Linked DNA regions of Homo sapiens. The protein of the gene in region 1 purifies or fractionates together with the protein of each later gene. This does not show direct contact. Each region holds a gene or a part of one and is shown on either strand. Other genes may lie near its edges. The genes, in order: SLC7A13 and ATL2.

The links.
Region 2: the proteins of SLC7A13 (region 1) and ATL2 purify together in Homo sapiens (affinity purification with mass spectrometry; one large-scale study listed by BioGRID and IntAct). This does not show direct contact.

The regions. Positions count from the first base shown.
Region 1 is NC_000008.11:86,213,551-86,217,285, forward strand, and holds the end of SLC7A13 (solute carrier family 7 member 13), read right to left. Parts: intron 1,097-3,735; coding exon 863-1,096; 3' UTR 513-862; downstream 1-512. UniProt on the Homo sapiens protein: Associates with SLC3A1/rBAT to form a functional heterodimeric complex that transports anionic and neutral amino acids across the apical plasma membrane of renal epithelium.
Region 2 is NC_000002.12:38,307,475-38,311,299, forward strand, and holds part of ATL2 (atlastin-2), read right to left. Parts: intron 2,974-3,825; coding exon 2,835-2,973; intron 2,033-2,834; coding exon 1,905-2,032; intron 1-1,904. UniProt on the Homo sapiens protein: Atlastin-2 (ATL2) is a membrane-anchored GTPase that mediates the GTP-dependent fusion of endoplasmic reticulum (ER) membranes, maintaining the continuous ER network. It facilitates the formation of three-way junctions where ER tubules intersect.

The DNA.
Region 1 (3,735 bases):
TAAAGTGCTGGGATTACAGGCATGAGCTACCTCACCCAGCCCCATGCTTCTAAAATAGTTATTAGCTTGAAAAAAAATGGGGCCAGGCACAGCGGCCCATGCCTGTAATCCCAACACTTTGGGAGCCCGAGGTGGGCGAATCACAAGTTCAGGAGTTTGAGACCAGCCTAGCCAATATGGTGAAACTCAGTCTCTGCCAAAAATACAAAAATCAGCTGGGTATAGTGGCAGGTGCCTATAATCCCAGCTACTCGGGAGGCTGAGGCAGGAGAATCTCTTGAACCCAGGAGGTGGAGGTTGCAGTGAGCAGAGATCACACCACTGCACTCCAGCCTGGGCGACAGAGTGAGACTCCATCTCAAAAAGAAAAAAAAAAGTGCTACATTCTGGAAGGGAAAAGCCAACTGAAAAATGGAATTATTCTTTTCATTTTCAAATCAGCATCTTCCCCGGCCCCGCCCACCTCACACAAAAAGGACTCAGTAAGATGAAGAGAAGGAATGCTTTTAAAATTTTTAGTCATTCACTTTTATTATAGGATCCCCACAAATTCAGTAGAAAAGGGGTGGGATACAGAAAAAAAAAGTGAGAGAATGGAAGTTGTATAATCACTCTATCAAGCTACGCAAACCAGGACTTAAGTTTTTTACCATGCGAAGCAGAGCTTTTAGCAATTTCTTAGTGACTCTGAAGCCAGGTACTGTCTTAGGCACTTTTGTATACATTACTTATTTCATTTGAGAAAAAAATATTTACCATAGGAATTTCACCATGAATGTTCTATCATATGTTTAACCTTGATTTGGAATCTGATATATGTTTTTTAGAAGGCCAATTTTTTAAGAGTTTGCACTTCCGACATCTATTCCTCAGACACATCAGGGAGGCAAATATTAAATAGTAATTGTAAATAGCAAGTCATCTTCTCAAACCAAGCCAATCTTATTTTAAAATGTATTAAAGGTATGTAAAATAGTAATCCGCTGAGAACTAACAGAAGCACGTAGACATAATGCACATTTGGAGACTTTACCAATGGTATCACAACCAAGCCCACGTCGATGACTATTGTTGCTAATGGAAATGACAAAAACACCTGAAAAGAGCAAAGTTTGAAAAAATATTGGATATGAACATCCATGAATGATACCTGCATATTCATATAAATAAAAATGCAAAGATACAAGCTAATTAAAGAAAACAGGCTAAATTAGCTGTAAAGTTGAATAAATCTGGCTTAGAAGTCAGATAAATGCCTGAGTGAAAGGAGATGTTGAAGACTGTCATTGTCAGGTTGGAGGGAATGGGCATCTAGCATTTGACTGCTCATGAATGGAAATAACTAGAACCATTTGCTGGTAAGATCACTATCTACTGATCTGGGTACCATGAATCTGTTAAGAGGGAGTTTCTAAGGCCCAATGGAAGTAACAACAATCTTCTCTGGAAAATATCTCAAGGCAGTAAGAAATTCATGACAAAACAGAAAGACTATCCTCAGACTGTCTGTTACACAGGTAAATACTGACAGGTAAATGTTGTAACTTTATAGGCTCAGCATATTAAAAAAAAAATCAAGACAAAAATTTTAGCTAAAACAATTTTCCCTGTTTTATGTTTTGTTTTTGCTTTGCCAAAAGCCTTAAAGACCAGTCCCTGGTACCTGCTTTGTGTTAGAATTGTAAGAGTTCTCTACAACATTACCCAATCTAGGGAGAAAATCGATATAAGATATAACTGATATGAATCTATATTCCCCAAAGATATATATTACACAGCTAGTCATAATTTATGAAACAAAACCCTTTAATTAGAGGATCATTTGTTGGGATTTAATCATTAAGAATATCTTCTTGGCCGGGCACAGTTGCTTACGCCTATAATCCCAACACTTTGTGAGGTCAAGGTGGATGGATCACGAGATCAGGAGATCGAGATCAGCCTGGGCAACATGGTGAAACACCGTCTCTACTAAAATTACAAAAGTTAGCTGGGTGTGGTGGCAGGCACCTGTAATCCCAGCTACTTGGGAGGCTGAGGCAGGAGAATCTCTTGAACCCAGGAAGCAGAGGTTGCAGCAAGCCAAGATCATGCCACTGCACTCCAGCTTCTCCAGCCTGGACGACAAGAATGAGACTCTGTCTCAAAAAAAAGAAAAAACAAAGAATCTCTTCTTAGCTTATAAAGCGTCCCAGAAAAAGATACTTTATCATCTCATGGCTCAGTATCAGTTATCAAATAACTGAGAGAAAAGAAAAGAGCACTCCTGGGGGCATACAAGACAAATTTCAGCCACTTGTACTTAAGGCTGCCCTTGCCTTCCTTTCTGATGCAAATGTAAGTTGAATAATAATATAAGCAATAATAGCCATCAATGTCAGACCCTGGATTGTTTGCATGCCTTAGCTTACTTAATACCTCCAACGTTAATATGAGGTAGGTATTATTTTTTCCCATTTTAGATCGGAAGAAACTGAGGTTCAGAGGTTCAATAACAAGACTAAACTCAGCTACTAGCCAAGCAACTGGACTTGAGCCCAAAACTCTTAATGATTATCTTATACTGTTATTTGTATATAACAAATTTATCCTCCAGTTCATAACTTCTTTATAATTGTATCTATTAGGGTCAGTGATCTAACAAAATGTGGATCAGAAAACAGCAAAAGACATGTTAAAAAGATGCAGCATGTGAAACTATACAGAAAGCAGACGTTAGGCAGGCACCTCCAAGGGGGACTGTGGCCATCAGCCCTGCTCTAGATTAGATCTCTCTCCCTATGTGCTCTCTGAGCATCCTCTGCAGACCACTAGGTAGCAATCGTCACACCGTGATTTTTGGTTTACATGACTGTCCAGATAGATTATAACCTGCCTAAAAGCAGGAGCCAAGTCTTAATTCTTTTTCTACTGAAAGTACCTAGCAAGGTGCTTAAAATATAGTTGCTTCTTGACAACTAATACTCAAACACACAACAATTAAGAGATGACTGGTTGGAAGAAGTTGGAAAGAAGACTGGAAAGGAAGGACATAAATCAACCATAGTTGGTGATGAGAACATTGCTTTCTTTCTCTCAGCAGTTCTTTCTTATATTTTGTATTTAGCAAGATTTAAACACTCCAAAGAGACTGCCTAGATTTGAATCTTGGCTCTAATCCATGCTGTGTGAGCTTGAGCAAGTGACCTAACTTTTCTAAATCTGTTTTCTTATCTGTAAAATGGAAATAACAATTGAATCCACCTTTTTATTACTAAGAGGATTAAAGGTGATCATCCAAGCAAAGCTTTGAACATCCTACCTAGGCAACTAAGATTATTTTATTATTCTGATAATCAGACCGTCAGGGCCATCTTTCTCCAATAACGTTCTTATGCTACCAAGTTTTGCTGCTTATTTCCTTTTCTACAATTAAGTGGTTGTCTCCTCTCCTGTGAAAAGTTTTTTCATCCAGACTGAAAGTCAGTTTAAAATAAGTAAAGTTGAAAAGATGTAATTTGCCAACAAAGTAAGCTGATGTTTCAGAACAGTAGATGTTATCACTTGTGACCTCACCTTGCCTCTTCTGTTTCCCATCTGCTAAATCTGGCCCTGACTGTGGAAGACATTCATATGCATGACTAGTTACATAAGTAGACAAAATAATATCTGGTCAAAAGACTCATAATGATCTGTCCAACCACCCAGAGAACTATTTTTCTCTCTAATAAACCGTTAAATGGAATCTAAGAGATT
Region 2 (3,825 bases), on another chromosome or scaffold:
GGTGACAGAGCAACGCTCCATTTCAAAAAGAAAAAAAGAAGAAAACATTGGGGAAACCTTCCAGGAAATTGGTCTGGTCTGGGAAAAGATTTCTTCAGTAATACCCTACAAGCACAGGCAACCAAAGCAAAAATAAACGAATGGGATCATATCAAGTTAAAAAGCTTTTGCACATCAGAAAAGTGAAGACGCAACCCACAGACTGGGAGAAGACATTTGCAAACTACTAGTCTGATAAGGGATTAGTAACCAGACTATATAAGGAGTTCAAACAACTCTACAGGGAAAAGAAAAAAAAATCAAATGATCTGATCAAAAAACGGGCAAAAGATCTGAACAGACATTTCTCAAAAGGAGACAAACAAATGGGATACAGGATATGAAAACATCACTGATCATCAGAGAAATGCAAATCAAAACTACAGAAAGATATCATCTTTCTCCATTTAAAATTGTTTTTATCCAAAAGACAGGCAATAACAAATGTTGGCAAGGATGTAGAGAAAAGGGAATCTTCGTACACTGTTGGCAGAAAGGTAAATTAGTACAACCACTATGGAGAACAGTTTGGGGGTTCCTCAAAAGACTAAAAATAAAACGACCATATGATCCAGCAATGCTGCTGCTAGGTATATACCCAAAAGAAAAAAATCAGTATATAGAAGATACATCTGCACTTTCATGTTTACTGCAGCACTAGTCACTACAGCTACAATTTGGAAGCAACCTGTGTCTATCAATATACGAATGGATAAAGAAATGTGGTACATATACACGATGAAGTACTACTCATCCATATAAAAGAATGAGATCCTGTCATTTCCAACAACATGGTGGAACTGGAGGACTTTATGTTAAGTGAAATAAGCCAGACACAGAAAAAACAAACTTCACATGTTCTCACTTATTTGTGGGAGCTAAAAATTTAAACAACTGAACTCATGCGATAGAGAGTACTAGAAAGATGGTTACTAGAGTCTAGGAAAGGTAGTCAGAGGGTGGAGGGGAGGCAGAGATGGTTAATGGGTACAAAAATATAGTTAGAATAAGATCTAGTATTTGATAGCATAACAATGTAGTTACAGTCAATAATAACTTACTATACATTTTAAAATAACAAAGAGTATAATTGGATTGTCTGTAACATAAGGAAGGGATACAGGCTTGAGGTGATGGACACCCTATTTACTCTAATATGATTATTAGACATTGTATGCCTGTATCAAAAATATCTCATGTACCCCATAAGTATATATACTACGTACCCACAAAAATTAAAAATTAAAAGTAAAAATAAATTTTAAAAAATTCATTCATAACTAAACAAAGATAATATGAGAGTAACTATCAAGTATCCAATAAGTGAACAAAATACACTCTTAGTTAAAACTACTACAAATAATACAACCTTCCACAGCGGTCTTGTTCTGGCAGGCAAGCTATAAAGACTAGAGAAGAACAGAGGGAAAAAAAAAAAACCTAAGAGTACTTTACTTGAACCAATATAAATACTTTCAGCTGTTCTTATCAAGTCCTCAGAACTCTGAGGGAGTGTTTTTGTGAGAACTTAGGATGTAAAATTATGCTTTCCATTCCTATTATCATTCACTAATGACAGAGTAGTATTAGAGTATGATGAATGGCTTGTTCTCTCCATATCTGAGATGGAGAAAAAGTAAGATAATTCTGTAAATAAATTAAATCACTGTCTAGGAGACAGAAATCTGCTATAATCTTTTAAATATCCTTAAATACAGATACATCTAATTCAAGGCAGAAAGATAAATCACAAATCTTACTCTTTTTTGTTTTAAAATAAAGACAAGAAATTTCTTATACATACAGATGAGTTTTAAGTCAACTACATTTCTATCTTAGACAAAACTGTTTAAGAGCTCACCTACCTTAAAATATTCTACAAGATCTCTACAAGTGACTTTAGATCCACTTATCTCTTTTTCTACCAAATTTTCAGGGGCAAGCAGCAATGGAACCAGATTTCGAAGCTCTCGTTTAAAGTCTTCATCAATATCTAGAAAACAAAAAATTGAGCAACATATTAGTCCAAAAAAAATTAGGTCCCCACTGGTACGATTTCATAAAATTCTGTTTTATGAAATAAGAATACATAGTATCTATTACTGAAGTGGATTCATTTTTTAAAAAAAAGCTCATCCAACATGCCATATCTCATAGGAAAAAATATAATCCCCCTTACTCTACTAGCCCATTTTCCCCAACCCCCTAGTAACACTGCCAGTTCAAATAACAAATAAAACATCAATAAATTTGTGGACTACCAAGACAAATTTCACATTTAGTATTAACGAAAATGTCCTTTTCAAGAGGCAAACAATTCATAAAATTGTATTAAATTTTACTACTAGATTATGTTTTACCAGCCATACTGTAAAAGTTTTGTCAATCCCCAAATGTTTTGCCAACACACTCAAAATAATCCTACAACATACATAAACTGTACTATCACTCCTGAAACAGACACTTATATCTGATTTCATCAATATAATAAAATGATAAAGCCTTTTAGCAGACTGCAATCAATTGAAAAGAAATGCTCTCAGCCTTCAGAATTTTCAGGACATCACTGCTGAGCAACAGACATTATAAAATAGGTTAATCAATATGCTAGACAGCTGCAAACAAATCAATGGAATGCTAGAGAAACAACACAGAGCATTACAACCACAACATGAACAATGCATCCAAACATTCTCCAGTATAAGACAGGACATTTAAGGCGTCATGTATTTTCTTAAAAAACTTTCCACCTCTAATAAATAAGTTCAGATTTTAGCAAGAATGGGAATTCCCACCTTTCAATCTCCCATCAAAACTAGGATTAGTTGCAACTTTAAGACCAGGATGTGGCAAAAGGAAGCAACCAAGATTTGAGAAACAATTGTGTATGTGCTTCCTTACATTCTGAAGCTCTTCATGTTGATTTTGTTTTACCTGAGGGCGGAGAGAGACAGGTGAAATTGTAAACAGAAGAAAGAAAATTTTTTTAAAGAAAATGCACACAGACTCGCATGCACACTATGCACACTTAACTCAGATGGTACTCCTAAGGAGTCTTTTTTGACAATACAAAAAATTATGAAGGCCCATTTCTGACCACTTTGTTAAGACCCCACTTTTTTTTTTTTTTTTTTTTTTTTAAAGACAGAGTTTCGCTCTTGTTGCCCAGGCTGGAGTGCAATGGTGCAATCTCGGCTCACCGCAACCTCCGCCTCCCAGGTTCAAGTGATTCTCCTGCCTCAGCCTCCCGAGTAGCTGGGATTACAGGCGTGCACCACCATGCCCGGCTAATTTTGTATTTTTAGTAGAGACAGGGTTGGTCAGGCTGATCTTGAACTTCCAACCTCAGGTAATCCACCCGCCTCGGCCTCCCAAAGTGCTGGGATTACAGGCATGAGCCACCGCACCCAGCCAACCCCACATTTTCTTAAACCACAAAAGATGTTTTTCCCAAGTAAGCTGCCTGGAACAGCAAAAACTACAAATAAGGTAGTTAATCACAGTATCTAATAACCAAATAACAAATTATGGCTGTGACTTATACACCAGTAAATAAATTAAGAATTTACCTTTAAAGTACTTACAACAGCAACAAAACAGAACAAAACAAAAAAAAAAGTATAAATTTGCCTACAAATAAAAAGTTTAGCCCCTGAACAAAGTAAAAGCTAAGATAAAAAAAATTACAGTGCAGTACAAAGACCTTAGAAATGTGTTAGAATTTCAGGTCCCTCTCTACATGATTATTTATGATTTATGCTAGTTACCAGAATTTTGAGAAGGGAA